Homo sapiens: one gene and its partners. The protein of the gene in region 2 purifies or fractionates together with the protein of the main gene of each other region. This does not show direct contact. Each region holds a gene or a part of one and is shown on either strand. Other genes may lie near its edges. The genes, in order: SH3GLB2, GTF2E1 and HARS1.

Region 1 (2,553 bases), on a different chromosome or scaffold from region 2:
CTTGCTCCAGAGACCCAGCAGAGCAAGGATCCTTTCCTCAGAGCTGGATATGCCCTCTTTAACCTGCTGGTCCCCACTTTGCCAACAGGGCCCCTCCAGGCCCCATGTGCCTGATCCCAGTGCCCAGGCTGCTCCTCACCCAGCCCATTCCTGCCCCACCTTGCGGCACCGGGCCCACCTCATCAGCCAGCAGGGCCAGCTCACTGCTGTCGGCTGCCTCGTAGTCATAGAGCACCCGAGCTTTGCGGGTCCCACTGGCAGGGGGGGCCACCTCTTCCAGGCAGAGCGAGGCCTCCCCCGGAGGGGCCAGGCTGGCCACAGAGGGCACCACAGGCATAGTGGCCGCAGCAGTGGTGGGTGAGGTGCTGCTCAGGGGTGGGGAGGCGGGCTCTGTGGTGCCCACGAAGGTGCCGGGAAATCTGGAGAGGAGGGATACATCTTAGCAGGTGGGAGTCCCAGAAGGGACCCCAGAGGCAAACTCCCCTCCCCAGCCCCAGGAGCCCCACTCCAGCCCCGGCTACTCACATGGCACCCTGGGAGCTGGCAGCACAAAGGGAAAAGCAAAGCAAGGGAAGGGTGAGATGGCCCCACCCCCTGGTCCCTGCCATCCTCCCCACCCAGGCATTCCCTAGAAACCCTCAGGGGCTCCAGGGGACTTGGCCGTCAGTAAGGCCAGCCACTCCACCCTCATACACATGAGATGCCCGCACCCAGAGTGGGTTCCAGCAGAGCCCTCCAACCCAGCTTTGTGTCACAGGACTTGCCCAGAGGAGCTCATGCTGCCCACGGACAGGGTATGGGAGCCAGGGGGCCCCAGTGGGTTCAGCAGTGCTGGCCCCGCACCTGCCCAGCTGCTTCTGCAAGTCCAGCATGTGGCGGTAGCACTGTGCGTAGTAGGTTGTCTGAGACTTGACGAACTCGTGGAGGCAGCGCAGGTGGTTCACCTGCGGGGAAGAGGCCAGAGGCTGACTTCTAACCTCCCGCCCTCAGAACAAAAAATTCCGTCCCCATCCCCGTCCTCTACCAGACCTTGCTCCGGCATTCCAGGGTGCCCTGCCCCTGCGCCCACACCCTCCCCGGTGGGACTTGCTCTGTGAGGGCCATTCTGGGGCAGCCCTGCTGACCTTGTGGTTCAGGCACACCTGGTGCCTGCTGAGGGTTAGGTTTAGTGAGGGTGGGCAGTGGGACTCACGTGAGTGCTACTGATTCCCTCCAGCAAGAGACGGGTCACTTCTGCTTGCCGGTCAAACTCTGTCTGGGCCACGCGGAGCTCCTGCTCGGCCTGGGCAGGGCAGGGCAGCCATGAGCACCCACACACCACCCACCAGCTTCCCCGCAGTCTTCTCCTGGAGCCTACCTGGGAGCCGCCTGTCCCTTTCCCCTGGGAACACAGAGAGCCTTCTGGGTCTATGCCTGACTTCACACCTGGAGCCCCAACCCCAGAGAAGCTAGAGCCCCACTCAGGACCCCACAGGCAGCTGCAGTGACAGACCCTTCCTCCATCACCCATCGGAGAAATCCACCCAGCAAGTGCATCCTGAGGGCCTACTGTGTGCTACAGGGTACTGTGGAGAAAACATTTCCCCACAGAGGGGAAACTGAGGCCCAGGGAGGGAAAGCAGTAACCCCTCCCCAGTGGGTGTGGGGCAGAGTGAGAAACAGATCAGACCCCACAGCAGCAAGTGTGCCTGCACCCCGCCACCCCTTCTTCCTCGAGCCCAGCCCCCCAGGCCCCAACTTACCTTGTCCACTTCATCATTCCAGAGCTGTGGAGACGGCAGCAGGAGTGGCCAGCAGGGGAGGGGAGAGGAGGACAGCTGGACCCTAGAGCCTGTGCCCTGCCCCAGCTCCCAGACTCAACTTCTGCCCCCCTGCCCCTCTGCCCCCCCTCCCAAACAGGAGCTGAGACTGGGCCGAGGCCCGGCATGGGAGCTGGGGGCTGGCGGTCCCAGTCCCTCTAACATGCCTCATGCAGGAGGGGAGCAGCCAGCAGGAGTCCTGCTTATATTTCTCCTACAGTGTCAGCCCCATTCTCTGAGTGGGGTCTCAAGAGAGACGGAGTGTCCCCACCCCATCCTGACTGCTGGCTCAGGCTGCTGGGCTGGGCGGCAGAACTGTGTGACCCTGGGCCAGTCACTGAAGCTTTCTGTCCTCTGGCAGAGAAAGGTGGCCTCGTGCTTGAGTCACACTGGGACTCAATGGCAAAAGAAAAACAGGGCAGTCTCCACCCTCTAGGATGTTTCTCCTTCCACTGGGCACAGGGAGGAGGCGGGAAGTGGCATCCAGACCCTGAAGAAGAAAGACGCTGCCCGGCCACGACCAGGAGACCCAGCGCTCCTGCCGCTTCCGGAGATCTGACCCGAGACAACAGCCTGAAATAGGGAATGCGGACCCAGGCCAGTGTGCGTGGCCGGCCCGTGTGGCCCCCATGCTGCTTAGGAAGTCCCCGTCCAGGAGCACTGGAAGTTGCTGTGAGAGCCAACTAGGGTTGGCGGCCTGAGGGACAGTCACCCAGCCACAGAACGACGGCACGGAAGACATGAGGCAGCATGC
Region 2 (3,655 bases):
AAACTGGAAATCCAGGTGTGGCTAGTGGTGTAGACTGTTAAGTAATGTTTAAGAGTGTGAGTTTTAGCATAATAGATTGAATTGATTAGATACAAATGGTTAATAAATTTTAAAAAATAGCCTGTGACAATGTTCAGGATGACTAGAAACTCTTGGTTTTAGGTATTTATTTGGCTTTCCCCATAACGTAGGCCCAAATGTGTAATGTGAAAACAAAAAAGACTAAAGCTGCCAGGAAAGGGTACAAGTTGTGGTGGTAAGCTGTAAAGAATTTGGCTTTAAGTTAAAATAAATACATATTAGAAATATTGTGATTAAAAACTATGCTGAAGTTAGGGATGAAATTACTTTGAATACATCAAAAATGATAGATGGATAGATATGTGATGAATAGCAAAATGCTAATTGTAGAATCTAAATGGTGGTCACATGGCTGTTCACTGTGAAATTCTTTCAACCTTTGTGTATATTTGAAAGTTTTAATAATAAGATATTGGGGGAGGGTGGAGGTATAAACTATCTGCTAAAGTCTTCTCTCTGACCTGAGATACTTGTTTTCTCTGTAGGAACTTTCCGCTGTACTTTTTGCCATACAGAGGTAGAAGAGGATGAATCAGCAATGCCCAAAAAAGATGCACGCACACTTTTGGCAAGGTTTAATGAACAAATTGAGCCCATTTATGCATTGCTTCGGGAGACAGAGGATGTGAACTTGGCCTATGAAATACTTGAGCCAGAACCCACAGAAATCCCAGCCCTGAAACAGAGGTGAGTGTAGGCCCTGTGCTCTTACTAAGAACACATTTCAACCTGTTCTTGTTTTAACTACCTGTACCTTGGAGAACAAGAGTGGGTAATTTACTAGGAGACTCAAGACTGTAATGTTACGTAGGTTCTCAGTTGTGCCACATTTGTCTGATTAACGTGTGCCTGTGATGAAATTCGTTTGTTCTAAATGCAGAACACTGTGGACTTCAGGCAAAAATCTTTAAATATTTAGGTTTGACTTCAAGTACTCATTCTGCTTGGGACTGCAGCAACTCAGCCAATTGTTAGCTAATCCTAAATTAGTTGTGCCGCTTGGGGATATTTGAATTTTCCTAGCCAGCTTCTGAAGGCTGAAGGCCTTTAAGGAATTCAGCATTTTCTTTTTTGTTTTTGAAGCATTTTAATCACCTTTATTTCTTAGTTGTAATTGCAACTTCCTTGAAAGTAAAGTATAGCTGGTGTTACCTATGGGTTAATACTCCTAACAGTGGCTCCCTATTTTTATCAGTGTTCCCTAATGTTTGAATTTCAGAGGTAACCTTAGTTTTGCCATGCCAGAAAAGGTGGTTTATATTCTTTCTTGAAAAGCATAAATGAAAATTGGGGTCAGGGAGTGCTCTCCTACTCTACCCTTTTTTTTCTCTCCCTCTTCCCAGCATCAAGTAAGGGATATCTTTATTTAACCTTCACTTCACCCACTCCCTTCCAAAGAGCTCAACAATCAGGCTGTATTTGTATAGTTTTTAGGAGCATTCTTAGTATTTTATTTCCTGTGGTACTGATGTTACAGAATAGCCAGTCCTGAGTAAATTGGGCTCCTTTTAGATGGTTCAAAGCAATCCAATTCTACAGAAAATTTTGTATCTGTAAGAGTTATGAATTTTCTAATCCAGTACCGTGTGTCAGTTAGGATGCCTTTGCCTGTGATAACAGAATATCCAGCTCTAGTTGGAATTAGAATCCAGTCTAGCAGTAGATTGAACAATAAGAAAATTTGTCTTGCATGACTAGAAGTCTTGAAGTAGTACAGTTCAAAACTGGTTAATTTCACAGCTCAATTATATCTTCAGGGATCTAGATTTGTTCCATCTTTATACTCTGCTGAACTCAGCCTGTTGATTATCCTCTTGGGACCATGAGGGGAGCTAGTCTAATATGGCCATGTATTTCTAGGTATCACGTGCAGATGACAATGTCCAAATGCAGAAAAAGGGACCGTCCCTTCCTTGTGTCCTATTTTAAAACTGAAGAAAGGTTTCCCAGAGGGCTCCCTAGGATACTCTATTTATCCCCTGATGTCTCACTGGCTGCAATTGTTTTATATGCATATTTCTAAACCAGCAGCTGGCAAAGGAAATGAGATCACATGACTGGTACTTAGACTAGTTAAGGTTTACCTTCTAGGACTGGGGAAGGTCCCAGAGTTCTTTGGAGCAAATTGCCATTGGTATTTTAATAAAACCAATAAGCAAAGAAAGAAAGGAGCCACAGTTGATAGGAAACTAATAACATCTGTATCACAGATAGCCTTAACTTTTGGTACTGGTTATTTATTTCTTTTTGTGTAAGAAAAGGAATTCCTCTTTTGAAAAAGGAATTTTTCTTTTTGTATCTTTTTCAGTCCTTTTAAGTTATATTGTAGCTCTAACATACAAGCTTATGAGGGAAATTGATTTTACAAAAATACAAAATTTTCTAAGCTTATGGATTATTTCATGTTGAAGTATGCGTCAGTGTAGTATCTGATTGCTTCCTACACAATATACTATCTGAATTATTCTGATGTTTCCTCTCCTACCTGTAGTTATTTGTCCTGTTTATCAAGATGCTTCCCCACTACAATAGCATTCAGTCACCACCACCACTGGCTTCCTGTCTCTAATGTTCTCCACCTACCACAATCCAGCTCCCCTTCCAGGATCTTTATTTCCATATCCCCCACTCACTGCAGGCCTTGGATGAGTCTTAGTGGTACAGTGACACCAGAGGCCCAACAGCAGCTCTCTGTATCAAGTCATCTTCTTCTTATCAGGAATGATGGTGACTCCAGGGATGAAGAAGAACCAGGAAATAGAGGAAATAAACTGATCAGGAAAAAAGGATACCCAAAAATCTGGTCATTAAGAAAAAAGGGAGGAAATGGAGGCAGACAAGAAAGACAGAATGGGGTTCCTAGAGCTGCCAGCCAGACCAAAGTAAAATCATTTCCACGTGGTCAGGAAAAAAACCATTAGGTTAGAAGATGTTACCCAGGTTATAATGTCCCCACCAAAGCATTTGACAAATTCCACTGCTTGGATATAACATCCTGGAGGTGGTATTGATTTGGCCTTTCTGTACTATAGGAGTATGAAGTTTTGAAATGGCCCATCCTGCCCCAAGGATGTAATAGTCCATCCTGCCTCAGTACAAGAGAAGAGGCATCAATAGAATGGTATGGGAACTCAGAGATGATAGCTTTTCTTTTTTTAAATAAGTGGCAATATTATTAGTTTGATTACTGATCTGTAATCAGTTAAATTCTAGCTTGTCCCTAGATCAGAAACTAGGGGCTACCTCTGCAGAACTGTCAGTAGGCCTAACCCAAGAATTGATGGACAATTCTATCCTTTCAGCAAGTCAACCTATTGATGAGATATAAAAATCTTCCTATCTTTCTAGAGTGGAATTCCTTGCTAGTAACCTTCCCTTTTTCATCATCTCTTAACACTTACCTTAAAGATTTTTAAAAATTTAGTTTTGAAATAATATTCCCCTCTCATCTCTGAGTAAGAGTTGTATCTTTTAAAAGTTCTAAAATTTATTAAATAATATAAAAAGATTCAAACATGAATTGTCATTTTTGTCATCTTCAATTAAAATTGTTCCAAATTTTAAAATTTGTTTG
Region 3 (3,655 bases), on a different chromosome or scaffold from region 2:
CCTCTGCACAAGGATCTTCTCTTGTGAGAGGCCAGGCCCAACTTTGCCCTCCCAGCCTTGTCAGCTCTGACCTTGACCAGGAAGTCGCCTATCTGAAGTGAACTCAGGATCTCGCACATGATCTTCAGGCACTCTGCATCAGGGATCATGGGATCAAAGTTCCCAGCAATGTCAAAATCCTGCAGGGAGAGGGTTAGCCAGCGGTCTTCAGGGATTCACCTTTCTGAAGGGGGGACTCTGGGAGCTCTGTCCTCTAGGAAGGCCTGGTTGCACTCAAGCATAGAATTTCTCTTTCATTTTCTGATCATCAGCCCAGAGGTAAACCCCGGCATCTTTGGGCTTCTCACCAGTTTTGGTTTCCTTTCCATCTACTGGGCTATTCCTTCATTTTCTACTTCATCATCTTCTTAACTCCTCCTACTGGATGGGGTGATTATATGGCTTTAGTGCTTAGCCATTTTCCCTATTCATCCAGAAGCCCTGGCATCAGTCTGGATGATTTGATGTATCAAAGCTAATTTCCTTATTCTCTGCTGTGATCCTATCACTGTGGTTTAAAATAAAGAGCACTGGACCAAGAGTTCTAGTCCTGACTTTGCCTTTCTTATCCCTATGATCTCTTCATGGGCTGGGTATCAAGTTTACTCATATGTAAAATGAAGAGACTTTATTCTCCTCCCCCACCACAGGGATTTTGTGAAATCTGCATGAAAACACCATAGAAGAGGCTGGGTGCGGTGGCTCACGCCTGTAATCCCAGCACTTTGGGAGGCCGAGGCAGGCGGATCATGAGACCAGGAGTTCGAGACCAGCCTGGCCAACATGGTAAAACCCCGTCTCTACTAAAAATACAAAAAATTAGCCGGGCATAGTGGCAGGCGCCTGTAATCCCAGCTACTCAGGTGGCTGAGGCAGAAGAATCGTTTGAACCCAGGAGGCAGAGGTTGCAGTGAGCCAAGACTGCACCACTGCACTCCAGCTTGGGCAACAGAGCGAGACTCCGTCTCAAAAAAACAAAAAACAAACAAAAAAACCACCATAGAAACCCTAAGAGCATTATCTGGGTCATCCAATTTGCTCAGGACACCGTGAGTACTCAATAGATTCTGCTGGCTTGAGAGAGCCCCAAGTAACTCATCCTGCCCCACGGTTTCCCAACACTCACACACTGGTAGAATTCCCGGTATCGGCCACGGGTCATGGCTGGGTTATCCCGCCGATATACCTTTGCTATGTGGTAGCGTTTAATGTTGGTCAGTTTATTCATTGCCAAATACCGAGCAAAAGGAACCTGATGACAAAGAGTTAAGGAGAAAGCCCCTCCTATCACTGTCTGCAAGTTGATTATCATCACCAACAGAAGCTGGGGTCTAACCCCTCCCTATGTGGGTAAAACTGCCACCCATAAGATTAATAGCACTTACAAACATCAGAAAGCATCAGCTGTGCTACCACATGAGGTAGCTGAAGGCTCAAAAAAGATTAAGGCACCTTTCCCTTTTGTAGTGTTGACTGGACTTTTTTGAGCATGGCAAGGGGCTGGGCAGGTTGGCCACAGACCAGAAAAAGGCGACCAGAAAAAGGCCCCCATATGGGATTTCTAAGCAGATGATTCTCTGTGTAGCTTGGAGACAAGGGAAATGTGTTGCTAGTCCATTAAGAAGAATTTTGTTCACTGGACAGGGCAGGGGAGAGGTATTCTGGAGCCAGGGGATGACTGTAGAGTTGGAACTGGGCCCTGACATCAAGCTGAGGTCTCACTCAGGATTCAGAAGATTTCTAAGGATGTGTATGCTCTGTTTAGCCAAAGTTCCACTCCTGGTTTAGAGAAATAATTCCCCTAATCGCCAAAGGCCTCATATTTGATCCTACCTACTCTACCATTCTTAAACCTGAGCCAAGTGAGTGCCAATCCATCCAAAGTCTCAAGAGCCCAAGTTTAGAAAGATACAGTGAGGTCATAGCGAAGGGACAGGAGCTCCCCGCCCTGGTCCTTCAGGTCATAGATAAGCTTGGAGTCTTCCCCATACTTTCCCATCAGTGTTTCCTGGAGAAAACATAAATAAATGTGGTCATAATAATAAACATAACAATTTAAAAGGAAGTTTTGAAAACAAACATGACTGATTCCAACTTGTCTACATTTCCCTCTGCTCTTTATCCCAATTCTTAGGTGTCTGATGTAGTTATCATTAAAAGGAAACACCAATTTTGTGTTTTTTTCTATTTTGATTTTGTAACAGAGCTGAAGTATTTTTCTTACACATTTTCCTCTTAAAAATCTTTTTTTTCTTCAGACTTCTCAGCATGAAGTTTGTTTTTTTTTTTTGAAATGGAGTCTCGCTCTGTCACCAGGCTGGAGTGCAGTGGCGTGATCTCGGCTCACTGCAACCTCTGACTCCGGGGTTCAAGAGATTCTCCTGCCTCAGCCTCCAGAGTGGCTGCGACTACAGGCGGGTGCCACCATGCCCGGCTAAGTTTTGTATTTTTAGTAGAGACAGGGTTTCACCATGTTGGCCAGGATAGTCTCGATCTCTTGACCTCGTGATCTGCCCGCTTCAGCCTCCCAAAGTACTGGGATTACAAGTGCGAGCCACAGCGCCCGGCCTGAAGTGTTTTTAAAAGATGCATAAATTCCAGTGAGAAGAAGCTCTGTACTTACTTCCTCCCTCATGTTATACTGTTAGGTGTTTAGGTTATTCTAATTTAAAAAAAAATTTTTTTAGGCCAGGCATAGCGGCTCACGCCTGTAATCCCAGCACTTTGGGAGGCCAAGGCGGATGGATCACCTGAGGTCAGGAGTTCGTGACCAGCCTGGCCAACATGGTGAAACCCTGTCTCTACTAAAAATACAAAATTAGCTGGGGGAGCTGGTAGGCATCTAATCCCAGCTATTCGGAGGCTTAGGCAGGAGAATCGCTTGAACCCGGGAGGCAGAGGGTGCAGTGAGCAGAGATCGCACCATTGCACTCCAGCCTGGGTGACGAGAGTGAAACTCTGTCTCAAAAAAAAAAAAATTCCCCATAACATTTCAATATCTAATATTTAGGTATATAGCTCTTTTTTTTTTTAAAAAAAAGTATTTTTCTTGATGATAAACTACTAGGAATAGGTTATCAGACCAATAAACATAAATGTTTTTTGATGCCTGAGATTCGAATAATGTCAAAAGTAAAAACTGGGGAATGTCTTAAGGGCATTACAGCAGTCCTTGCCCTGTGATGTCTATCATCGGTAATAGCATATTTCACTTACCAGGTTGGCAAAGATTAAAAAGCCTGAAACTTCCCAGTATGCAGTATCAGAAACAGTAACACACTAGTGTTACGGGCTGAACTGTGTCCCCCTGGCCCCACCCTCCCCAATTCATTTGTTTAAGTCCTAACTCCCAGTAACCTCTGAACATGTCTACATTTGGTGATAGGGTCTTTAAAGAGATGATTAAGCTAACATGAGGTCTCCAAGTTGGGCTCTGATCCAATATGTTGTTGTAAGAAGAGAAAATTTAGATAGGGACAGAGGGAAGACGATGTAAAGACAAAGGGAGGCTGGGCGCGGTGGCTCATGCCTGTAATTCCAGCACTTTGGGAGGCTGGGGTGGGCGAATCACTGGAGGCCAGGAATTCAAGACCACCAACCTGGTCAACATGGTGAA

What was found.
Region 1: the proteins of GTF2E1 (region 2) and SH3GLB2 fractionate together in Homo sapiens (co-fractionation; one large-scale study listed by BioGRID). This does not show direct contact.
Region 3: the proteins of GTF2E1 (region 2) and HARS1 fractionate together in Homo sapiens (co-fractionation; one large-scale study listed by BioGRID). This does not show direct contact.

What each region holds. Positions count from the first base shown.
Region 1 is NC_000009.12:129,008,928-129,011,480, forward strand, and holds part of SH3GLB2 (endophilin-B2), read right to left. Parts: intron 1,839-2,553; coding exon of another isoform or gene 1,767-1,838; coding exon 1,743-1,766; intron 1,283-1,742; coding exon 1,193-1,282; intron 945-1,192; coding exon 844-944; intron 541-843; coding exon of another isoform or gene 526-540; intron 420-525; coding exon 179-419; intron 1-178.
Region 2 is NC_000003.12:120,770,162-120,773,816, forward strand, and holds part of GTF2E1 (general transcription factor IIE subunit 1), read left to right. Parts: intron 1-566; coding exon 567-768; intron 769-3,655.
Region 3 is NC_000005.10:140,677,837-140,681,491, forward strand, and holds part of HARS1 (histidine--tRNA ligase, cytoplasmic), read right to left. Parts: intron 2,048-3,655; coding exon 1,952-2,047; intron 1,292-1,951; coding exon 1,166-1,291; intron 180-1,165; coding exon 72-179; intron 1-71. UniProt on the Homo sapiens protein: Catalyzes the ATP-dependent ligation of histidine to the 3'-end of its cognate tRNA, via the formation of an aminoacyl-adenylate intermediate (His-AMP). Plays a role in axon guidance.